Regions from separate parts of the Homo sapiens genome. Here region 1 is linked to region 2. The links come from fine-mapping of genetic effects on gene expression. Tissue or cell type: whole blood. Region 2 holds a variant in brackets; the other region holds the start of a gene. All regions are shown on one strand. Distances are between the middles of the regions.

Region 1 (8,178 bases), 120 kb after region 2:
GCTCAATATGAAGCTCTTCACTTAAGGCAAATACTATGATAATAAAATATCCTTAAACAAATGATGGCTGAAAGCTGAAAATGCAAACTTTTTTTAAAAAAAAAAAAAGACCTAGATAAAAGACAGTGTGTACTCAGAGGTAAGTAACTCCGTCTAATTCTCCAGAGACCTGCAGGACTGCGCCGACTTCCTATCCCTATTTTGAGGATAAGCAAAGTGAGGCCTAGAGAGGAGAAAGATTTTATTCTCCACGTTTTCGCAAAAAGGGCAGAGAGAAACATTTGGATGGGACTTCAGGGTGACCAAATGAATGCAAAGGCAATTTCCTTAAGTGCTAAACAGTGCTGAATGCTGAAGGGCTCCATACCCTTACATTCACCGGACGTGCCCCCACATTTCAGCCAACCAGTGGTTATGCACGTTCAAAGTTCTCCTTCCTTCTAAAGGTCGCGTCTAGGTCATCTCTGCACAGCGTCCCTTTCTGCAGTGTGAACAGATCTGTGATATTTGACCCGCTGAAAGAAAAGTCACACTGACCCTGAGATCCCCCCATGGTAAGGCATTCTGAGATACCTGAGCTGTCTGCAGACACTGAGGCTGGAAGCTTTTTTTTTTAATTTAATACAATCAGGATCAGGGAGGGGGGATGCCGAGGTAAAGCAGTGCACATACCTTTCAACTGGTCAGCAACCACGCTCTGGCCCAGCCGTTCAATAACTTTCCCATCTTCCATTTCGTACCGGTCATCTAAGTATTTTGCGGTGGCCTCAGAAATGTGAACTTTGCCGGCCACTCCCAGCTGCTCCATGAGATTGGCCAGGTTCACATCGTTGGACCACACGTCAAATTTAAACCTCCTCATGCCCAGGATGCCGCAAAGGACGGTGCCCGTGTGCACCCCGACTCTCATGTTCACCATCTCCTTCTTCTCCTGGCAGAACTGCTCGATGGCCTTGATCATGCCCAGGCCCATCTCGATGCAGCAGTAGGCATGGTCGGCCCGGGGCTCGGGACAGCCCGCCACGCAGTAGTAACAGTCTCCCAGGGTGCTGATTTTCTCACACTTGGTCTCCTCACACAGGCGGTCGAAGCGACCGAACAGATCGTTCAGGAGACCCACCAGGGCGTGGGCAGACTTGTTGGCACTCATCTTGGTGAAGCCCACGATATCTGCAAATAAAATACTGACTTCTTCGATCTGCTGCATCTTAAAAGGGCGGAAGGCTATAGGAGCTTTTTGGATGGAAGACTTTTTCTTCCTGTTCTTGGGGCTCGAGGTGGCATGCCTCTTGACAGAATTCTCACTCTCCTCATCTCCCTGCTTCATTAAGTCATCGGCTATGATTCTTGGCATCACGGAATGAATCATCCTCTCTTTGAGGGCTTTTTCCACTTCCAGGTCCTTCCCGTGCATAATGGATTGCCCCACCTTGAGGAAGGTGCTCCTGGACCTCACCTGGGACATGACGAACAGGTGGACCCCGATGGCGTGGATGCAGCCGTGGAGCAGCCCCCTGCTCAGCAGCTCCCAGTGCAGGGCCCCGGCTCCGGGCGAGGGGAAGCAGGCTTCATCCCGGAAATGGTAGCCAAAGGTCTCGAAAAGGACAGAGTAGGCCACCCCCAGACACAAACTCAGGTACAAAGGTAAGTGCATGACGGTATAGAGCAAAAAGAGCACTTCGATGCACATGGAGAAGCTCCCCACTTGAGATAAGCAAGTATCTGTGGGCCGGGCTGTGGCCGTAAGGTTGGAGCTGTCGCCGCGTCCTGAGACAGGCGTCAAGACCTGGAACTGCGCAGCCAGGGTCAGGGCGAACACCAGCAGGGTGAGAGCCAGCGAGGTCCACGCGTAATGCCGGGCGTACAGCTTGGTGAAGGTAAACAGAAAGAAGCCCACACACACCAGGAGGAAGCACAGCGCGGGGGCGACCATGACGATCAGTCTGGATCTCATGTGGACCGCAAAATAGATGCTCCACAGAAGGCAGGCGAAGCCGATGTAGAAGAGCGCATACCGGAACCGGCGCTGGGTCTGCGGGAAGCAGCGCTCCAGGCAGGCCTCCTCCAGGTTCACCGAGTCGAACTTGGGGTCCCACCAGCGGCTGGAGGCCCTCTCGAACAGCTGGGGCAGCTTCTTCTGCCTGCGCAGCCGGCCTCCGCCGCCCACTCGCCGGGGGACGCCCCCGGAGTCCCCAGAGCTGCTGCAGCTAGAGGAGATGCTGTATTTGCAGTGCTTGGGGTGGCTGTTGGAGGACAGCTGCTTGGGGTTGATCTTGACGCGCACGCTGTTGCTGTCCCCGCTGGAGTCGCAGCTCACCTCGGTGCTGTGGTGATGCAGCAGCTGCTGGTGGGGTGGGGAAGCCATGTTGTCGAGTCCCGGGGCCTGCCCCGGCCGGGGTCACCAGTACCTGCCAGCAAAACGGGGAGAGTTAGCGGCGCTCCCACCTAGGCATGCACGCCTAGAGGCCCGGGACCTGCTCCTGTCCTAAGGGGCGGCTCCAGCACGCGACCTGGACAGGCACCATCTGTTCCTGTGGTTCCCGGCTCAGCGGTGCTCCCACCGCCCCCACCGCCCCCACCTTCGAGGCGCACGAGAACCGCTCGGGACGGACCTAGAACGCCCGGGGGTCCCCGCCGCGTGGCCGCCGTGGCTCCGGGACCGCTTTGCTCGCTCGCCTTCCGCGCCTCTCGCCCCGAGGGTGGCCTCCGCGCCGCGCGGCTTCTCCTCCTCGCGCGCTCGCCTCCTCCAGCTGCGGCTCCGGAGGGAAGTTCAGACCTTGAGCGCTCCCAGCCCCGCGAGCCGCCTGCGCACAAACAACTCCGCTGGCGGCGCGGAGCCCTCCATCCTGCAGGAGCCGCGCTCCGATGCGTCAAAGGCGGCGCGCGGCCGGCCCCGGGCCCGGACCCCGACCCGGAGCAGCGAGCTTCGGCGGGCGCCCCCGGCTCGCGCTCCCCGGCCGCCCCCCGCGCTCCGGGCCGGCCCTGCCCGCGGCGGCGGGCGCTGGGGGTGGGGGCGCCCCGGGCTGCGAGTGCGCGGAGCCCGTCGGCGCGGCCCGTCTAGTGGGGCCTGCTTCCCCCCGAGTGCGCCGCCGCTCCCGCCGCGGCCGCAGCTGTCCCGGGACCGAGCGCGTGGAACCACGGACGCGGGCCCCTCGCCGGGCGGCGGTGCAGACGCTGCCGCAGAGCCGGGCTCCCGCGACGCCGGCCGGGACGCCCGCCCGCCCGCGCCCACGCCGGGGGCCGCCTCCCCGAGCTAGAGATGCGGCCGCCGCCGCGCCCGCCGCCGTGTCCCCCGCGGCCGCTGCCTCATGTCGGAAGAGCTGCCGCCGCCACCATCTCCGGCCCCTGCCCCGCCCGCTGTCACTGACAGACGCGCGCCCGCGCCGCCCCTCGCCCAGCCGCAGCGCGCACGCGCGGCCCGCGCTCGCCGCCACCGCCTCCTGGCCCCGGACACGCGCACGGGCCGCGCGCCGCCCCGCCTTGGTGCGCGCGCTGGGCTGGGGCTGCGGGGCGGGGCGGGGCGGGGCGGGGCGCGCGCTCGGCTCCGCCCCCCGCCCCGGGCGGCGCCGCTTCTAGGCGGCGGGCTGTGGCCGCTGTCCGCGCTCCGGGCGCTGTGGGCCCGCCCTCCCTCGGCGTCCCAGAGGCCGCGCGCCGCCCGGGGTCCCGACCCTGCGGAGAGACCTGAAGGCGCCTGCCGTGGAAGAAGCCGCTGGCCGCAACGTTTGGGAAATCAAAATGTTGCCTTCCCACTCGGCACGCCTTTGGGATAAATCGAAGTTTCCAACCGTTGGATTTCCCTCCCGGGAGGCTCCCCTTGCTCTGTAAGCAATGAATGCGGGCCCCGGGGCACTCGGCCTGCCCTGGACCTGCTCACGGGGCGACCTTCACGGGCCTAGCCTCCAAAGCTGGGCCCACCGACGACCACGTTCCCCCGCCCCAGGGGTAGTTTACCTTGCTGTCCTTGAGCCCTTCTCCCCCTCCTCATGAACTACTGCTTTTCCTTTTACACAAATGAGACTTTCAAAGGAGTCCGCGTCCCATAATGGCAGTTGTGCATTGGCCTCCATAAACATTGCCACGTGTAAATAAAATCCTATTCTCTCTAGCATGCAGATCCCGACCCCTTCTCCCCACACTCCACAGTGCCTCCTGCCAGTCACGGGGCTCTCTTCCATCCCCTCCCTCGCCTCCCAGGCCCAGCGCCGGGGCCCACACCAGGTCTCACTGTTGAATTAGAAAATAAAAGTAAAATGTGATCTGTCCATGCAATGGAATATTATTCGGCTACAAAAAGGAATGGAGCACCGATGCATGCTGCAGTGTGGAGGAACCCGGGAAACGTTATGCTAGTGAAAGAAGCCAAACAAAAAAGGCCACATAGCGTATGATTCCATCCAGATGAAATGTCTCGAATTGGCAAATCCGTAGAGGCGACACAGATTGGAGGTTGCCAGGTGCTAGGGGAGGAAGATAAGCAGCTTGGGGTTTCGTTTTAGGATGATGAAAAAGTCTAGAAATGATCCAACAGGATGAATCTACATACTGCCCTTGAATCATACACTTTAAAGTGGTTTAGGCCGGGAGCGGTGGCTCACGCCTGTAATCCCAGCACTTTGGGAGGCCGAGGTGGGCGGATCACCTGAGGTCGGGAGTTCGAGACCAGCCTGACCAACACGGAGAAACCCCATCTCTACTAAAAATACAAAAATTAGCCGGACGTGGTGGCACATGCCTGTAATCCCAGCTACTCGAGAGGCCGAGGCAGGAGAATTGCTTGAACCCGGGAGGCGGAGGTTGTGGTGAGCTGAGTTCGCACCATTACACTCCAGCCTGGGCAACAAGAGTGAAACTCCATCTCAAAAAATAATAATAAAATAAAATAAAGTGGTTTAAATGGTAAATGTTATGTTGAGTGTATTTTACCACAATAAAGGAGGAAAAAACTAAAAGCAACATATTGTGGTGGTATTCCTGCAGAAGTGTGTAATCTCAATCCAATCGCAAGAAAACACCAGACAAACCCAGATTGAGACCTGTTCTACAAAGTGATTAACCAGTACCCATCAAAAGTGTCCTTGGACACTTTGGGTCTTGAAAGACAAAGACTGAGAAACTGTCACAATCTAGGAATCGTCCCTAAGGGGATAGATACAACAACTAAATGGAACATGGGATGCTGGTTGGGAACATGGAACAGGAAAGGACAGTAGCAGGAGAGCGGGCAAAATTCACATAAGATCTGCAATTTCCTGGTTCTGATCCTCTTACTATGGTTAGGTAAGACGTTAACATTTTTAGGGGAAGCTGGGCCCTGTGCAGTGGCTCACACCTGTAATCCCAGCACTTTGGGAGGCTGAGGCAGACAGACCACCTGAGGTTAGGAGTTCAAGACCAGCCTGGCCAGCATGGTGAAACCCCCGTCTCTACTAAAAATACAGAAATTAGTTGGGCATGGTGGTGTGCGCCTGTAATCCCAGCTACTCAGGAGGCTGAGGCACAAGAATCACTTGAATCCAGGAGACGGAGTTTGCAGTGAACCGAGATCATGCCACTGCACTCCAGCCTGGGCAACAGAGCAGGACTCCATCTTGGGGGAAAAAAAATTAGGGGAAGCTGGATGTAGGATACAGGGAAACTCGCTAGTATTTCTGCAACTCTTCAAGTCTAAAACTATTTCAAAATAAGTTTATCTAAAAATTTAAAAAATAAACCTTTAATGAACATCAATTCTATGCCAGGCACTCTCACATACGAGGTTCAGAAACGCATGGTGTGTCACATGCATTCGCTTAGTAAATGGGATAACAATAGTGAACTAACATTGACCGAACACGTCATAAATGCCAGAAACTACTGGACATTTTCACCTGTGACACATTTGGTCATTGCCACAACCCTCTGAGGTAGATACTATTGTCCCTTGTTTAGAGAGGTGAAACCCAGGATTGAAGAGAAACGCACCCTAGGTCTCCCACTAAGGGTGATGAGTTCAGATGGAAAACCAGGTCTCAGAATTCTGAGGCCATGACGCCTTGTGTGACCCTGGCACTACCCTCTGCAAGCCTCACGATGGCCCAGCACAGACTGTACCTGTCTCATCCATCAGCCCAACTGGATGGGAGGCCCTCAGAGCCAGGACTCACAGCTTCCGTCTTCCCTTGCTGGCTGCAACGCTGTGCTCCCTGCTTCCTGGTTTCCTGAAACGATCTGAAAGCTTGCCTGTCTGCACTTCTTTCCTCCTCCCTAAATCATTTGTGGTAACTTATGTGTTTGTAAGTTAGTCACGTCGGATTTTTAGACACAAGTAATGGTCATACTCACCTCCCTACTTCTCTGGAAGCAATTCGGCCACATTGCCTGCTGTGGAAACCTATAAGCTGACAAGCCTCCCCAGTCTCCAGGTCAGGGAGTGAATCATGCCATCAACCCCGGGGGACTGGGGCTGTGGTGCCAGCACTGTGTGTCAGGCCCTGGAGGTACAAGGATATGCCATCCATATCTTTTCTTTTCTTTTCTTTTTTTTTTTTTTTGAGACGGAGTCTCGCTTTGTCACCCAGACTAGAGTGCAATGGTGCGATCTCGGATCACTGCAACCTTTGCCTCCCGGGGTTCAAGCAATTCTCCTACCTCAGCCTCCAGTGGAGCTGGGATTACCACCATGCCCAGCTGATTTTTGTATTTTTAGTAGAGACAGGGTTTCACCATATTGGCCAGGCTGGTCTCGAACTCCTGACCTCATGATTCACATGCCTTGGCCTCCCAAAAGTGCTGGGATTACAGGCGTGAGCCACCGTGCCCAGCCGCCATCTGTTTCTTTAAGGGGCTTAGGAACGATGTCCAGGGGAGGGGTTGGGTTAAGAAGATGGGATCAATTAGGCTTTCTGAAGGATTGGATGTGAAGGAGAGTTCTATAAAGGAGGTTAACCATCTTCTCATAATGCCAAGACCCAAAGGGAAGTCACTGGAGGGTTCTGGGTTCTTCTTGACCTCCCAGAAGCATAAAGGTACCCGATTCACAGAAGATACGGGGCAGATGCAATAGCTTTCTTCAAACATCCAATCCAGGGTGCTGCCAAATCCACAGAGAGTTTCTTTTTTCCATCTGTGATGTGTACAGAACTCCCACCTGGACACAGTGGGAATCAGAATGTGTCCATGAAAACTCTGCAAAAGCTTGCAGAATGCCTTGCCTGCCTCAGTGTCTCCTCCTCACCCTCCCTCACATGCAAATTCACATGATGGGTGAGGACCTTGGCTCCAGGATATCAGAGGTCAGACTGGGTGGCAACCATGACAGGCTTTGAGATAAGTTGCATAATGATTGAGTTGTAGCCATTCTCATCACACCGGCCCCTGAGGACTCGGCAGTGCCTACGTGATTTCATTTGTCAGGTGGACCACAATCTTGGAGAACCATCTGCTGGAAGATGGGATTCCCTGCTATGGCCTGATCATGCGTCCAAAACTGCAGTTACAAGCTTTGAGTCTTTTTCTCTTTCAACTGATGAGGGTGAGTTTGTAGGAACGTACCTGCTTTTTTTTTTTTTTTTTTTTTTTTTTTTTTGAGATGGAGTCTCACTCTGTCACCCAGGCTAGAGTGTAGTAGCATGATCTCAGCTCACTGCAACTTCCATTTCCCAGGTTCAGGCAATTGTCCTGCCTCAGCCTCCCAAGTAGCTGAGACTATGAGCATATGCCACCACACCCAGCTAATTTTTGTATTTTTAGTAGAGGCAGGGTTTCACCATGTTGGCCAGGCTGGTCTTGAACTCCTGACCTCAAGTGATCCTCCTGCCTCGGCCTCCCAAAGTGCTGGGATTATAGATGTGAGCCACACGCTTGGCCTTTACCCACATTTTTTCTCTACCATTGACTGCTGTTCACAAGCCTCCAGCAGCTACCTTCACATTGACAGGAAGATCAGGCGTCTCAGCAAAGCAAAAGATCCTTTGGAGAAGATCACCAAAATACCTGCAGGTGCCTCCATAACCAGGTGTATTCCATCTAGCCACATCCATAGATTCTACATCCAGCCATGCCCAGTTTAGAGGCCAATACAAATTCATTGAATGACTGCATATGGGAGTTATATTAATATATTTTTATTTTTTTTTAATGGGTTCAACCAGGAGGCGGAGCTTGCAATGAGCCGAGATCTCGCCACTGCACTCCAGCCTG
Region 2 (8,178 bases):
GAGGGAGGAACACGAATCCAGAACCACACACGGAAAGATTCCAAAATGGGGCACACACGGAGAAGGAAGTGTATGAAGGGAAGTACAATCCAGTCTGCAGTCGGGGAGAGCTTCTTGGAGGAAGTGGGATTGGGTGATGGGCTGAGAAGTCAAGTACAAGGGGTTAAGGCGGTGGGGGCGGGAGAGGGAACATGGAGCCGGAGTTAGAGAGAGAGGTGAAGGCCTCCTGGGCCCTTCTCAGGGGAAGAAAGCAGGGAGGGCAACAGAGAAGAGTCTCACCCAAGACTCCAGGACAGGTGGGACGGGGGCTCTTCCAGGGCAGGTCGGTGGGGAGTTCCCTTCCAGGGCAGGTGGGGGGTTCCCTTCCAGGGCAGGTGTGGGGGATTCCCTTCCAGGGCAGGTGTGGGGGGTTCCCTTCCAGGGCAGGTGTCGGGGTTCCTTTCCAGGGCAGGTGGGGAGGGGTTCCTTTCCAGGGCAGGTGGGGGACCCCTTCCATGGCAGGTGGGGGGGGTTCCTTTACCAGGGCAGGTGTGGGGGCCCCTTCCAAGGCAGGTGGGGGGGTTTCCTTCCAGGGCAGGTTGGGGGTTTCCTTTCAGGACAGGTTGTGGTGGGGGGGCCCCTTCCAAGGCTGGGGATAGCCTGGAGATGCCACGGCAGAGGAAAGGGGCTAGTAATGGCGAGGCTGCGCTTTAAGACAAAGGACTAAAGAAAGGGTTTTTTTCCTCCTTTGCAAAGAGACATTTCATGTACAGTTGCCACTTAGGGTTTACAGAGTGTGGGAAATCAATGTTCGCCTTCGTGTTCCCATCCCTTGGTAAAGCACAAAACTAACAGTGAATGACCATGTGAGAACAACAAACACATTCTTTAGTAAAAGCGCAAGGAGAAATGAACGCACCTCTTCCTGATAGCTGGTCCTGTAGGATCGCTCCAGCTCCTGATCCAGGAAGTTCAGGCTGAACTGATTAATGGGCGGCTTAAAAAAGTAATCTTTCATCAGGCTAGAAGACACAACAAATGCAGTCGATCAATACCCAGCACCATAACTGTGCCAATGTTTTCAGATCATAATTAGCTACCAAAACGCTGCTCATTAGGTATATTACAACAGCTGCGTCTAAAAGCGCCTGTGGAACAGACGCCACTCAGCTGCCCCTTGTTAAAACAGATCTGTGGAAAGTCCTTCGCACCTCAAAGCATAATCATATTTTGTGTTTCACCTTCGTTAAAGAATGACCATCCACCATGATTATAGCACACATCATCAGAACCTTGGTTTTTTGGGGTTTTTTTTTTTTGAGGCAAGGTCTCACTCTGTCGCCCAGGCTGGAGTGCAATGGCGCAGCGATCTTGGCTCACTGCAATCTCCGCCTCCCAGGTTCAAGCAATTCTCCTGCCTCAGCCTCCTGAGTAGCTGGGATTACAGGCGCCTGCCACCGCACCCAGCTAATTTTTGTATTTTTTAGCAGACGCGGGGTTTCACCATGTTGGTCAGGCTGGTCTCGAACTCCTGGGCTCAAGAGATCCACCCATCTCGGCCTCCCAAAGTGCTGGGATGACAGCGTGAGCTGCTGAGGCTTGTTTTTGAAAACACATTCCTAATGTCTAGGATTAGGAGAAGATGAAGGCAGCTTTTCTGTTCTTTGAAACAATCTTTTGTGAAGAACACGCAGATCACTGTGCTGAGAGTACTTACATGGATTTGGAGGCTTCAAACGAAAACATAATTCAGAACCGGCGGTCCTGTCATTCAGAGCACTGACAGTAATTGCCACCGTAAAAGCTAACAGGTTGTTATCACAAAATTGTGTTTATAGTTAGCGTAATTTTGGTGCTATTGTCACATATGCAGATTGCATGTGAAACCTGCAGAATGATAAAGCTCAGTGATTTTAATAGCAGGGAAATCAACCCCGCTTTCCATGACTCTTTCATTCATTTATGAATTGCCAGCAAATAGTAATATCCTTTCTATACTGCAGAAAATTACTAGAAACTAAGGGAACGTTAACATGATTTCAGAAAGCAAATATAGCTGTGTTAGCCTCTCTCCCTCATACAGTGACTATCAGAAGTAAATTAGACGAGGCTGGGCGCGGTGGCTCATCCTTGTAATCCCCAGACCTTTGGGAGGCCGAGGCAAGCGGATCACCTGAGGTCAGGAGCTCGGGACCAGCCTGGCCAACATGGTGAACCCCCGTTTCTACAAAAAATACAAAAATTAGCCAGGCCTGGTGGCAGGTGCCTGTAATCCCAGCTACTCGGGTGGCTAAGGCAGGAGAATCACTTGAACCTGGGAGATGGAGGTTGCAATGAGCCAAGATGGCGCCACTGCATTACAGCCTGGGTGACACAGCAAGACTATGTCTCAAAAAAAAAAAAAAAGAGTAAATCAGGTGAAATATGTCAAGTGCCTCATGTGCCCCCCACACAAAGTACGGCTCATCACGTGTGTTCCTTCCTGTCCTTGCAGCACGGCGGACACTCTCCTTTCTGTGACAGGTATCCAGTAACTTCCAACATTCTCAGACTCAGAAGAGAAATAATTCTGTCCCAGGACACTGACCCTCTCTCCTCCCCTGACTCAGGGAGTGTGGACTGAGGGAAGAGCAACCACGCAGCTGCAGAGAGGATGTGCACAAGGCCACATTTTAGCAGTCAAGTGGCAGAAGCGACACTGCTATTAGCTGTGCTGCTCCATTTATTTCTTATTTGTTTTTTGAGATGGAGACTCGCTCTGTTGCCCAGGCTGGAGTTGCAGTGCTGCGATCTCAGCTCATTGCAGCCTCTGCCTCCTGGGTTCAAGCGATTCTCCTACCTCAGCCTCCTGAGTAGCTGGGATGACAGGCACCCGCCACCACGCCCAGCTAATTTTTGTACTTTTAGTAGAGACGGGGTTTCACCTTGTTGGCCAGGCTGGTCTTGAACCCCTGACTTCAGGTGATCTACCTGCCTCGGCCTCCCAAAGTGTTGGGATTATAGGCGTGAGCCACAGCGCCTGGCTGAAAATCACCCTTTGAGGCATTATAGTGAAGACAGAGGCAAGAATCATCAATGAATGTTAAATCTAGGGAATTCTGATGGGGAATGAAATATGTACAAGATCTTCAAGTATTTTCTCACAGATTGCTTATTAGTCATAAGAGGAATATAATAACCCTAGATGAGACAACCCGGCACCACCTTGCCTAATTAATCAAAATTAGTATCACTAATGAGGAACAGACGGGCACTGCGTGTCCCTGGAGAGGACACCCTGAGGAGGACACGGCATCCCTTCTGCAGTCTCTGCCTGGCCAGAGGGAGAGCCTGAATCTAACCAATCCAACTTCAGGAATATTTGATAAAAGGACTGGACCTGTATTTTTCAAAAATGTTACCATTAGGCCAGGCACAGGCTCACACCTGTAATCCCAGCACTTTAGGAGGCCGAGGCGGGCAGATCACCTGAGGCCAAGAGTTCGAGACCCGCCTGGCCAACATGTTAAAAACCCATCTCTACTAAAAACACAAAAATTAGCTGGGCATGGTTGTGTATGCCTGTAGTCCCAGCTACTTGAGAGACCTAGGCAGGAGAATTACTTGAACCTGGGAGGTGGAGGTTGCAGTGAGCCGAGATTGAGCCACTGCACTCCAGCCTGGGCAACACAGCAAGACCTAGTCCTTATAAAAAAAAAAAAAAAAAAAAAAAAAGCCAGGCGTGGTGGCTCACGCCTATAATCCCAGCACTCTGGGAGGGTGGGGTAGGTGGATCACCCGAGGTCAGGAGTATGGAGACCAGCCTGGCCAACATGATGAAACTCCATCTCTACTAAAAATACAAAACCTAGCCAGGCATGGTGGTGGGTGCCAGTAACCCCAGCTACTTGGGAGGCTGAGGCAGGAGCATCGTTTGAACCTGGGAGATAGAGGCTGCAGTGAGCCAAGATCGCGCCACTGCACTGCAGCCTGGATGACAGAGCGAGACTCAGTCTTAAAGAAAAGAAAAGAAAAAGGCAGAGAGGCTTCTGCCTGCAACCTTTGCTTTTTCCCAGACAGCCCCAGTCGTACCTGTCTTCTTTGATAACGTCCACAAAGTGGGCGTCCGTTTTCTCCCGGATGTTCTTGAACCTCAGCGGAAGGAGAGCCGACTGGTCCAGGCTCACCCCTGCCCACCTTCCCTTCTCCTGCAAGATCTCACACAGAGAAGTCTGACTGTTGGTGAGCTTCTCCTCTTGGGGAGGGCTGAGGAGCCCGTTCTGAGTTTTGGGATTAGGTCCTCCAGAAGCCTGCCTCGAGACAAAGAGGACGCAGACACGGGAAGTGAAGTGGCACCGGGCACTGGGCACACACGCCTGTCCCACCCCGACCTCCGCTGCGGGGCGCTGCTGCACTGGGCGTGGGACTTTCTGACCTGCGAGGAACCCCCACCCCCCTGCGCCTACAGACCTGCTCCAATCCCAGCCCTGACTGCCCGTCTGCTCCTTCCTGTTACCCAACAGTGCCCAGTGGTAACGCTGGGTGTTCAGGCTGCCAGGACATTGAGACATGGGAAGAGTCGGTGCGGAGGTGGAGGGGAAGGGAGGAAAGTGAGGAGCCGAGGCCCCCAGAGTCTGCTTAGGCCAGAACCACGGTTCTGGGAGCAGGGTGCATGGGTCGGGGGTCCAGGAGAAGTATGACGAGGGGTCCAGGGCTGTCAGGGCACAGGCAAGGTGGATGGAAACGGGCTCGTGTCGTGGGTGTCCCCCGTGGCTGTGGGAAGGCATGGGATGACCTGCACCTGCAATCCTTTGGCAGATGGAGAGCAGATGGAGGACGAGAGCCCGCGCCCCAGGTGAGTCGCCTGCATGAGCCCCCGCCGACAGGCTCTCGCGGGTGGGCTGAGTCCTGGCCCTGGTGTCCAAGTCTGGTTTTCCTGA[A/C]AGCCTTCCTGCCACCGGCCCTAACTCCCAACCTCTCTCTTCACCCAGCCTTTCTCGCCGTGAAGACCCCCTCTTGTCTCTGCCCGTCTATATTCTCTCATAAACTGAGTCCAGCTTCCAGTACCACAAATCCCCTCCCGGCACTCGAATCCACGCATTTTAAACCCTTATTGGCCTTTAAAGGAATCCCGCCCAGCTCAGCCCCTGAGCGCTGGTTTCCACGTGGGTTGCTGCTGACCCTCCCTCGAGCTCCCTGCCGGTCTCTTCAACACCCGGAGGACCCGCGGGTGCGGAGTGCTGTTACCCAAGAGGAGTTACTCTCAGAACTAAGAAGTCGACAAGACAGGAATGTCACCTTGGGTGGATGCGCCAGGAGAGGAACTGACAGGAACAACAGCCATGAGCTTGTTACCTTGGTGCTGTTTTTATGCTCGTCTTGGCAGCCGTTTTGAGGTGCTCCTCCCTCGGCGCCGGCTTCAGATTTGGGAGCAAATGTGATTCCGCACGAAGGGCAGGTCTAGAAGAAAAACACAGACTGTGGGGACACACCCAGAAACCGCGACTGCCACCCTGAATTCAGGCAGGTCCGCTGTTGCCATCTGCCGTCACGCAGCATGGTGGTGAGCAAGGGGAAGGCACACAGAACCGCTCGGGGATGAGCTGAAAGCCAACGGGCAAAGTGACAGTGGAAACACACAGAAACCCGGGCACGAACGCAACAGGACCCAAAAATGGAACCGGGAATGTTCACTGACTGAACAATGGATCAACAAACTGTGGTCTATTCGAACAATGGGATATTACTCAGCCACGAAAAAGACGGAAGCACTGACGCCTGCCACAGCATGGTGAACCTCGAAAACATTATGCTCGGGGAGGGAAGCCAGACACAGCACAGATATTACGTGATCCCGTCTATGTGAAATATTCAGAAAAGGTGAATCCTTGGAGGGAGAAGGCAGATTCCTGGCTGCCAGGCGGGACCGGGGGCAGGAAGGGGGAGTGGCTGCTAAGGGGCGTGGGGTTTGCTACGATTCGAATGTTTGTGCCCCCTCAAAAGTCAGACGCTGAAATCCTAATTCCCAAGGGGATGGCATTGGGGGGCAAAGCCTTGGGAGGTAATTAGGTCATGGGGGACAAGCCTTCAAAATAGGATTAGTGCCCTCATAAAAGAGGCCCCAGAGGAATCCCTCGTCCCTTCGCCCTGGGAGAAGGCACCATCTGTGAAGCAGGAACGGGTCCTCACTGGACACTGAATCTTCCGGGACCTTGATCTCGGACTTCCCAGCCTCCAGAACCCTGAGAAATACATTTCTGTTGTTTAAAAGCCACCTGGTTTGTGGTATTTCAACAGGGTTTCTCTTTGGGATGATAAAAATGTTCTGAAATTGATCACGGTGATGGTTGCACAACCTTGCTAAATATACTAAAAACCACTGAACTGTACACTTTAAAAAGATCGATTTTTAAATATTTTTTGAGATGGAGTTTCACTCTTGTCACCCAGGCTGGAGTACAGTGTCACGATCTTGGCTCACTGCAACGTCCACCTCCTGGGTTCAAGCGATTCTCCTGCCTCAGCCTCCTGAGTAGCTGCGATTACAGGTGCCTGCCACCACGCCCGGCTACTTGTTTTGTGTTTTTAGTAGAAACGGGGTTTCGCCATGTTGGCCAGGCTGGTCTTGAACTCCTGACCTCAGGTGATCCACCCGTCTTGGCCTCCCAAAGTGCTGGGATTACAAGCATGAGCCACTGTGCCTGGCCAAAAAGATCGATTTTATAGTATGTGAATTATATCTCAACAAAGCTGTTATTAAGTAAAGAAACTGGCCACCAACTATGCGAGGACACAAATCCAAGGTTCTTAAGCTCCGTGTGATGGTGAGCTAGTCTCATAAGATGGGCTGAATAATCAAAGGTACACGATTTCCAGATCTAGGCGTACTTAAAAGTTTATAGGAATTAATGGACCTAGAAAAGAGAAGGCAAGATTTAATACAGGTACCCTAAAAAGAGCAAAGCCTTTATTTCTCATAAACTAGGATTCAAACCCTAGTCAAGTACTTACTAGTTTGGAGACTCTGTTCAAATCACTTTACCTCAGTTCCCTCATCTATAAACAAAGAGTGAAGATATGTTGCTAAGAATTAAATGAAATTGGCTGGGTGTGGCGGCTGTAATCCCAGCACTTTGGGAAGCTGGGGTGGGAGGATGGCTTGAGTCCAGGAATTTGAGGCCAGCCTGGGCAACATGGCAAAACCCTGCCTCAACAAAAAGCATAAAAATTAGCCTGGCCTGGTGGCATGTGCCTGTAGTCCCAGCTACTTGTGGGGCTGAGGTGGGAGGGCTGCTTGAGTCTGGGAGGTCAAGGCCGCAGTGAGCTTTGATGGTGCCACTGCACTCCAGCCTGGGGCAAAAGAGAAAGACCCTGTCTTAAAAAAATAATAATTAAATGAAATAAGTATATATATAGCCTAGCACAGTTCCTGGCATACAGTATACCCGTAATAAACTTATTATTATTATTAATGTGACCAGGTAACCTAGGAACCATCTAAGAAAGCAACTAACAGCTTCCAATGAAGAAGACAAACCGTGGCAAGAAATATATTTTTTTTTTTTTTTGGACTCAAAAGCAATTTCCTTGCAGCAAGAAGTGTAAAACATTGAAATAAATTATGGGAGGCCAGATATTATTTTGGAAATTTAAAGTAAGTGTCACTACCTAAGGGCAAAGATATGACCCAGGTTGTATTTAAAGTTAGACTGCAGACCTGTACTATATTAAATAAAAGAAACAAAGATTCTACAGGGTTGTATAGTTTGGGAATCTGATGTAACATACAAGCTAAATTTGAACATTTGTATGCATTCAAAAAATGAAAATATACATGCCAAAACAGCTAGCGAAATCATTAATTAACATATCTGAGCAAATAATGGCATCTAGATAACATTTGCTTACAGCTCTTTAAAAACTGACATTATCAACAGAGGTAAAATGTTCTAGTTATCAATAACATACAGTGAGTCTATTTGAAAGCACCTCTTGGTATTGACTGGCAGAGTTAAACTTCTAAACATTTTGCTGGTGTGCTGGCTCACACCTGTAATCCCAGAACTTTGGGAGGCCGAAGCAGGAGGACTGCTTAGGGCCAGGAGTTCAAGACCAGCCTGGGCAACATAGGGAGACCTTGTCTCTACTAAAAATAAAACCAATTAGCTGACCTTGATGGCACGTGCCTGTGGTCCCAGCCACTCGGGAGGCTGAGGCAGGAGG

The links. PIP is the estimated chance that this variant, and not a neighbour inherited with it, causes the effect.
Region 1: it holds the start of ADCY9, and the variant in region 2 is fine-mapped to the expression of ADCY9 in whole blood (TOPMed, PIP 0.95).

Annotation. Positions count from the first base shown.
Region 1 is chr16:4,113,078-4,121,255 of GRCh38, forward strand. ADCY9 (adenylate cyclase 9) reads right to left here and starts at 3,365. Exons shown (of 11, transcript NM_001116.4): 1 at 2,613-3,365; 2 at 673-2,408. The coding sequence starts at 2,365. RefSeq lists silencers at 299-509, 3,503-3,572.
Region 2 is chr16:3,988,096-3,996,273 of GRCh38, forward strand. It overlaps ADCY9 (adenylate cyclase 9), which reads right to left. Exons shown (of 11, transcript NM_001116.4): 4 at 5,311-5,415; 5 at 4,051-4,268; 6 at 899-1,001. LOC124903633 (a long non-coding RNA gene) reads left to right here and starts at 4,035. Exons shown (of 2, transcript XR_007064956.1): 1 at 4,035-4,813; 2 at 4,947-6,229. The variant A/C (reference allele first, on the strand shown) is at 4,899.